Linked DNA regions of Homo sapiens. The protein of the gene in region 2 purifies or fractionates together with the protein of the main gene of each other region. This does not show direct contact. Each region holds a gene or a part of one and is shown on either strand. Other genes may lie near its edges. The genes, in order: ARL6 and SBNO1.

The links.
Region 1: the proteins of SBNO1 (region 2) and ARL6 purify together in Homo sapiens (affinity purification with mass spectrometry; one large-scale study listed by BioGRID and IntAct). This does not show direct contact.

Annotation. Positions count from the first base shown.
Region 1 is NC_000003.12:97,767,747-97,771,572, reverse strand, and holds part of ARL6 (ADP-ribosylation factor-like protein 6), read right to left. Parts: intron 3,493-3,826; 5' UTR 3,466-3,492; coding exon 3,343-3,465; intron 1-3,342. UniProt on the Homo sapiens protein: Involved in membrane protein trafficking at the base of the ciliary organelle. Mediates recruitment onto plasma membrane of the BBSome complex which would constitute a coat complex required for sorting of specific membrane proteins to the primary cilia.
Region 2 is NC_000012.12:123,323,317-123,327,142, forward strand, and holds part of SBNO1 (protein strawberry notch homolog 1), read right to left. Parts: intron 3,019-3,826; coding exon 2,836-3,018; intron 2,284-2,835; coding exon 2,186-2,283; intron 516-2,185; coding exon 364-515; intron 1-363. UniProt on the Homo sapiens protein: Plays a crucial role in the regulation of neural stem cells (NSCs) proliferation. Enhances the phosphorylation of GSK3B through the PI3K-Akt signaling pathway, thereby upregulating the Wnt/beta-catenin signaling pathway and promoting the proliferation of NSCs.

The DNA.
Region 1 (3,826 bases), on a different chromosome or scaffold from region 2:
GTTCATTTTCACCACTTTTACTCAAAAACAATACTAGAAGTTCCAGCCAGAGCAATTAGGCAAGAAAAATGAAGGTCATCAGTATTGGAAAGAAATAACTCAAATTATCCTTGTTTGCAGATGACATGTTCTTATATTTAGAAAAACCTGAAGACTCTACCAAAAATACTGTTAGAACTGATAAAGAGATTCAGTTAAGTTTCAGGATACAAAAGTCCACATATAAAAATCAGTAGCATTTATATACACCAAGAACAAACAATCTGAAAATGAAATCAAGAAAGTAATCCCATATATAATAGCTATAAAAAATATAAAATACTTAAGAATAAATCCAACCAAAGATCTCTACAATTAAAACTATAAAATATTGATAAAAGAAATTGAAGAGGACACAAAAACATGAAAAGCTATTCTATCTATGCTCATGGATTAAAAGAATTATCACAGTTAAAATATCTATACCACCCGAAGAGATTAACAGAGTCAATGCAATCCCTATCAAAATACCAATAACATTCACAGAAATATAAAAAGAATCCTAAAATTTATATGAAACCATAAAAGACCCCAAATAGCCAAAATAATCCTGAACAAAAAGTACAAAGTTGGAGGTACCACACTATCTGACTTCAAACTATACTACAAAGCCATGATAACCAAAACAGCATAGTTTTGGCATAAACACACACACACAGACCAACAGAAGAGAACAGAGAAGCCAGAAATAAATCCATGTATTTACATCCAACTCATTTTCCAAAAAGACATCCAAGAACATACATTGGGAAAAGGATAGTCTTATGATGCTGGAACACTGGATAAACACATGTAGAAGACTGAAACTAGACCCCTATCTCCCACCATATACAAAAGTCAACTAAAAATGGATTAAAGACTTAAATCTAAGACCCAAAACTATCAAAGTACTAGGAGAAAACACAGGGAAAATGCTTCAGGACACTGATTTGGGCAGTAAGACCTCAGAAGCACATGTAACAAAAGCAAAAATAGACAAATTGGACTATATCAAGCTACAAAGCTTCTACACAGCAAAGGAAACAATCAACAAAGTGAAGAGATAATCTACAGAATTACAGAAAATATTTACATAATATCCACTCAACAAAGGATTAATAACCAGAATACAGAAGGAACTCAATTCAGTAGCAAGGAAAAACAAAACACAAAAAATCTGACTAAAAAAATGGGTAAAAGATCTGAATAGACATTTCTCAAAAGAATATAGACAAATGGCCAACAGGCATATGAAAAAAATGCTCATCATTATTCATCAGGAAAATATATATCAAACTACAATGAGATATTATTTCACCCCAGTTAAAATTGCCTTTATCAAAAAAGGCAAAAAAATAATGAATGCTGGTGAAGATGTAGAAAAGGGGGAACTCTCGTAGATTGTTGGTGGGAATGCAAATTAGTGTAGCCACTATGGAAAACAGTATAGTGTTTCCGCATGAAACTAAAAATAGAACTCCCATAAGATCCAGCAATCCCACTGTGGGAATATATCCAAAAAAATGGAAATCAATGTATCAAAGAGATACCTGCACTCCCAAGTTTATAGCACCACTATTCACAATAGCCAAGATATGGAATACACTTTTGTCCATCAATGGATGTATGGATAATGAAAATTTGGTACATATACACAATGAAATATTATTCAGCCATAAAAAAGACTGAAATCCTGTCATTTGCAGCAATATGGAGAGAACTGAAGGTCATTAAGTTAAGTGAAATAAGCCAGGTCCAGAAAGACAAGTATCACATGTTCTCACTTGTTTGTGGGATCTGAAAAAGTAGATCTCATAGAGACATAGAGTAGGTGGTTACCAGAGGCTGGGAAGGGTAGGGCGGAGAGAGGGGTGGAGAGAGGTTCATTAATAGGTATAAAAATACAGTTAGATAAAGGAATAAGACTTAGTGTTTGATAATTCAGTAGAGTGACTATAGTCAACAATAATTTACTGGATATTTCAAAATAGCCAGAAAAGAAGAATTAGAATGTTCTGAACATACAAAAAAGATAAATTTTTGAGGTGATGGATATCCCAGTGACTCTGATTTATTATGCATTGTATGCATGTATCAAACTATCACATGTAACCCCTAAATTTGTATCAATAAAAAATGATATAAAAACTGGATGATGTGACAATAAAGATTGGTAGTGGAATAAAGATTGAAATTTTTGAAAAAGGTATATAGAGTCTATCTCTAAAAAAATGACAGCTAAGACTAGATTCTTGAAAAAAGCGATCAGATTAAAATGTCCTCCCTCTCTCCCTATTCTAAAATGCCAGCAACCTCAGTACATTAACAATAAATAAACATAAAGATAGCTTAATATGAAAAACTAGTTTGTGTCCAGGAAAGAACTACTTACCTAGAAACTGATTTTATCCACAAAAATGAGACAATTTTACTATAAAATGAGATGGGCACTATTTTTTTGCAAGGCATTTCCTATCACAGCATTGTACATTTCTGTACTTATTTTATTTAATTCCTTAAAAATAATGTTCTAGTAGTGGATGTAAGCTTACAAGAGACTCTTCTTGAGCTTGGTGTAGGAAGGGAGCAAGTGTTGTATCTACATCTATAACTGAGTGACAGAGGTTTGAAACCCCTCAAGAAGTCCCATTTCAAGTGGCTCCTTGGCTGTTACCATTACCATAAAAAAAAGAAAAAAAAGCAAAGCCAATCACTTTTCTCTGGACCTGGAGGTCAGTTTTTCTGATAAGGCAGGAGAGTTGTCCAAACATAAAGGCTCAGGAATTGGTGCCAGAAATTAGGAAAGCCCTATTAGATAGGCTTTCTTTATATGCAGCAGACTTTAACTTTAACTTATACATCACATGTTAAATGTGCTAGCTTTATATATTTTTCAGTTATTACAATATGTCCATACACTTGTTGCTTAAAATCATCTTGCTTACTATTACTAATATGCATACTATACTTTCAAAAATTGTCTAATTATCCATAGAACCTATAAAAATGTTTCACCTTTCTCTGTTTTGCTCCTCCTGTAAGGAGGAAACTAAAAAGAAGGCAATGACATTTAAAGTAAACTCAGTAAATCTGTGAAGAACTTTTGAAAGAAAAGACATTTGAAAATAATATTCCAGTTTAATAATTAAAATTTACTGTGTAAAATATACTGCAAATTATGGCTGAGGATACTTAAAGGTACTGAAAGGTTAACAGAATATCTTAATGTGATTATATGCGGTTTTAACGTCATATAACATAATTCTGCACATTAATTTTCTTTAGTAGCAGAAAATACATAAAGCATCTAACAAAGATACTTACATTTGAAGGTTTAAGTTTGTTAATGATCGTCGTTTTGCCACTATTATCTAGCCCAAGGCACAAAACATGAACCTCCTTCTTCTTCAGGCCAAGCAAGACTGAAAGTCTGTCTAGCAATCCCATAATGTGATTCAAATATTTACAAACCAGCTGCAATTAAGAAAAAATAAAATATTACCCAAAGGCACCTTAAGTTATGGAAAATATTGGTAGGTGTATTAAAAAAAGGTAATAATTTAAATACACATAATAATAGTGTGAAAACTATGTCAATGTAGCTTTGCACTTAGTAAACACAGTGTAAGCTGATTACCAGAAAGGAGCCTTAACTGACACGCAGATTTGCAGCTTATAACAGGTGGCAACACAGAACAATGCCTTGGAAATAACAACATTTCTCTCTGTAATTTATCATATTTAAGAATAAAACATGGTCAGCCTCAGTATCATTTGGAGTCTGCGAATTGTGATACTTGAAAATATG
Region 2 (3,826 bases):
TTTAATTTCAACAGTATTTTCAACGTCAACTATTTTCTTTTTTCTTTTTCTTTTTTGAGACAGAGTCTCGCTCTGTCATCCAGGCTGGAGTGCAGCAGCGCTATCTCGGCTCACTGCAAGCTCTGCCTCCTGGGTTCACGACATTCTCCTGCCTCAGCCTCCCGAGTAGCTGGGACTATAGGTGCCCACCACGATGCCCGGCTAATTTTTTGTATTTTCAGTAGAGATGGGGTTTCACCGTGTTAGCCAGGATGGTCTCGATCTCCTGACCTCGTGATCTGCCCACCTCAGCCTCCCAAAGTGCTGGGATTACAGGTGTGAGCCACCGCACCTGGCCTATTTTTTCTTTTTTAAAGTGCTCACCTTTCCGCTTCTTTATTTTATTTTCTTTACAAGGACTATCTCTTGGCGAACTGTTGTTACTTGGAGCTGTCAAATCGATTCCTAGTAAACTATAAAGTTTTTTCCTGTCTGGAGCAGGAAAATGTTTTTCAATGAGTGACTGCAACACACCTCTGTAGGAGAGAAACAGTGACAATTACTGCTTCAGTTGACAAAATAATTATATGTAAAGTATTATTAAATATATTGAAATATACTTTGTTCAGTTTTACAAAATACTGATAAACGAGCTCAAATAAATTTTAATTTTCTAGCCCAAAGCTGTCCAACTAAATAATAAGAATGCAAGCCAAACCACATACACAATTATTGTATTTTCTGGTAGCTTAAATTAAAAAAGTAAAAAATAAATAAAACTGGTGGAACTAATTTTAATAATACATTTTAACTCAATATACCATGTCAACACATATGTTTTATGTTATTTTCTCTTAAGGAGTCTTTGAAACCTGGCTCAGTACACATATAATAACATCTCAATATGGACCAGTCATTTCAACTGCTCAATAGCCACATGTGACAAGCGGCTGCCATTCTGGACACGGTAGTTCTAGGCAATTATGTACAGAAAAATATAGATTAGCAGGTGTATGTCTTGCTTTTTTCTTTTTTTTTTTTTTTTTGAGACCGAGTCTCTCTGTCACCCAGGCTGGAGTGCAATGGTGCCATCTCAGCTCACTGCAACCTCCGCCGCCTGGGTTCAAGCAATTCTCCTGCCTCAGCCTCTCCAGTAGCTGGGATTACAGGTGCCCGCCACCACGCCTGGCTAGTTTTTGTATTTTTAGTAGAGACGAGGTTTCACCGTGTTGGCCAGGCTGGTCTCAAACTCCTGAGCTCTCGTGATCCACCAGACTCAGCCTCCCAAAGTGCCTGGATTACAGGCGTGAGCCCCATGTATTGCTTTTGAAAGGAGCATCTGAATGCATCCCGAGGCACAAAATAGTAGAGCAGCAAGTTTATTTTGCTCAGTTTACTACCAGAGTTTGAATGTGGAGGTTAGGCAAACTAAAAACAATGCCTAAAACATTTTAAAATCTATTTCTGAAGATCTCATGCTTATTTTCAACTTTTAAAGTAGACTTTATTTTATTTTATTTTTTTTTGAGACAGGGTCTCACTCTGCCGCCCAGAGGGGAGTGGAGTGGAGTGGTGCGATCTTGGCTCACTGCAACCTCCACCTCACGGGTTCAATGGATTCTCCTGCCTCAGCCTCCCAGGTAGGTGGGACTACAGGACGTGTGCCACCATGCCCAACTAATTTTTTTTATTTTTAGTTGAGATGGGGTTTCACCATTTTGGCCAGGCTGGTCTCAAACTACTGACCTCAAGTGATGTGCCCATGTTGGCCTCCCAAAGTGCTGAGATTACAGCTGTGAGCCACCATGCTCAGCCAACTTATAAAGTAGACTTCGTTATATTAGGACAAACTATAGTTACTGTTCCTGTGGATAACGGTAATTTCAAATACAGTACACTAAAACTGAATCTAAGCCAAGCTGTCACAGATTTCCAAGATGTACAAGATAAACAAAGTCTAGCCCTTCTGTTAGTTCACATACTCTGTGTAATATTAGCAAAATGCTTAACATTTTAGGATTATGAGATTTCTGTTATTGTTTTCCAATAGATACACTGTTACAGAAAAGCAGAAAACTCAGATCAAGAAAACTTAAAGATGATGCAGGTGAAACAAAAGTTTTGTCTCCAGGAAATGCCCACATTGGAACTAAGGTAAGGAAGAACTCAAAAAGAAACAAAAACATTAAAAGAACAAAAACATTACTTGGCAGTTGAAACAAAATCATTCAATTCTCCCCCGCCCTCTTCCAAAGCTTCTAATGTTCTAGCTTCTCCTGTAGACTGCAGACCAATTACAACACACTGGAGAAAAAAGAAAACATGTTAATTATGAATAATAATGTTTGTGGCTTCTTACCAAGACATATTTTAAACATTTAGCTAAACAAAGATTTCAAACAAGAATGTCCTCATTATTATAAAACACAAATTTGTTTTACTTATTTCTTCTACATATTTGAGACAGGTTATTTGTCAAAAATTTAGGCAGGAGATAGGATTACAGACAGTAGTAAGCATGAGTGAAGCCCCTGCCCTTGTACAGTTTATAGTATCTTATGCTTTAAGTAGATAAATATTCACCGAAAAGAAAAAACCTTAACGCAATACACATCCATATGTTACCAGTGCTACCAGCTATGGATGACCAATTATAGTGATGTTTACTTTGTTATACTTTTCTGAACTCTCTAAATTCTCTAAGCAGGCATTGCTTTTATAATTTTAAGAAATGTATTTTTTAGAAGTTTTACTATCCTTTAGGAAAACCAGATTTTACAAGCAGAAAACCTCAGCACCCACAAAGACTAAACAACATAACCCCCAAACAATCTCTTAATGAGTTCTTCTACTTACTTTTCCATTCTTGATTTCCTCTCGAGCTAGTTGCACAACCCTTTTAACTTTGGATGCTATGCATAAGTATTTGAAGAACCTCTGGTGAGCAGACCAGAACTGACCCCACATGGACTTCTTCATTCGTTGCTCAGCATCAATCAGATCTGCAGCTTGCTGAAACCGCTCTCTGGCGATGACCCACTGAAGATACATAATCAACATTTCAGACACTTCATCTTTGAGTCTAGTTATTTAAAAATACCAATTAAATCAAAACAATGTTAAGTGCAAGACCATTTAATATTAATTTAATAAATCATCTTTAGTAACTTGGGAATCTATTTCTCAGGATACTCACACAGTTGTCTCAAGTTTCTTATTACCTAATGCAGTCATTTTAGAAAATAATGTGATTTTAAGAACTATGCAACTGAAATAAATGGCTATAACTTATGAATTACCTTAACAAAATGAAAACATGGACAATCTGAAATATAAGAACATTGGTTAGGCCAGGCGCAGTGGCTGATGCCTGTAATCCCAGCACTTTGGGAGGCTGAGGCAGGTGGATTGCTTGAGCCCAGGAGTTCCAGATCAGGCTGGGCAACACTGTAAAACCTCATCTCTACCAAAAAATACAAAAATCAGCCAGGCACATTGACATGCGCCTGCAGTCCCTGATACTCAGGAGGCAGAGTCTGGAGGACTCCTTGAACCTGGGAGGTAGAGGTTGCAGTAAGCCAAGATCACACCACTGTACTCCAGTCTGGGTGACAGAGTAAGACCCTGCTTCAATTAAAAACAAAAACAAAAAAAAACACATTGGTTAAACAGCCTATCATCTGGTAACTCATCTGTTTGTTTTTGTTTTTTGTTTTTGTTTTTGTTTTGCGATGGAGTATCCCTCTGTTACCCAAGCTGGAGTGCACTGGCACCATCTTGGCTCACAGCAACCTCCGCCTCCTGGGTTCAAGCGATTCTCCTGCCTCAGCCTCCCCAAGTAGCTGGC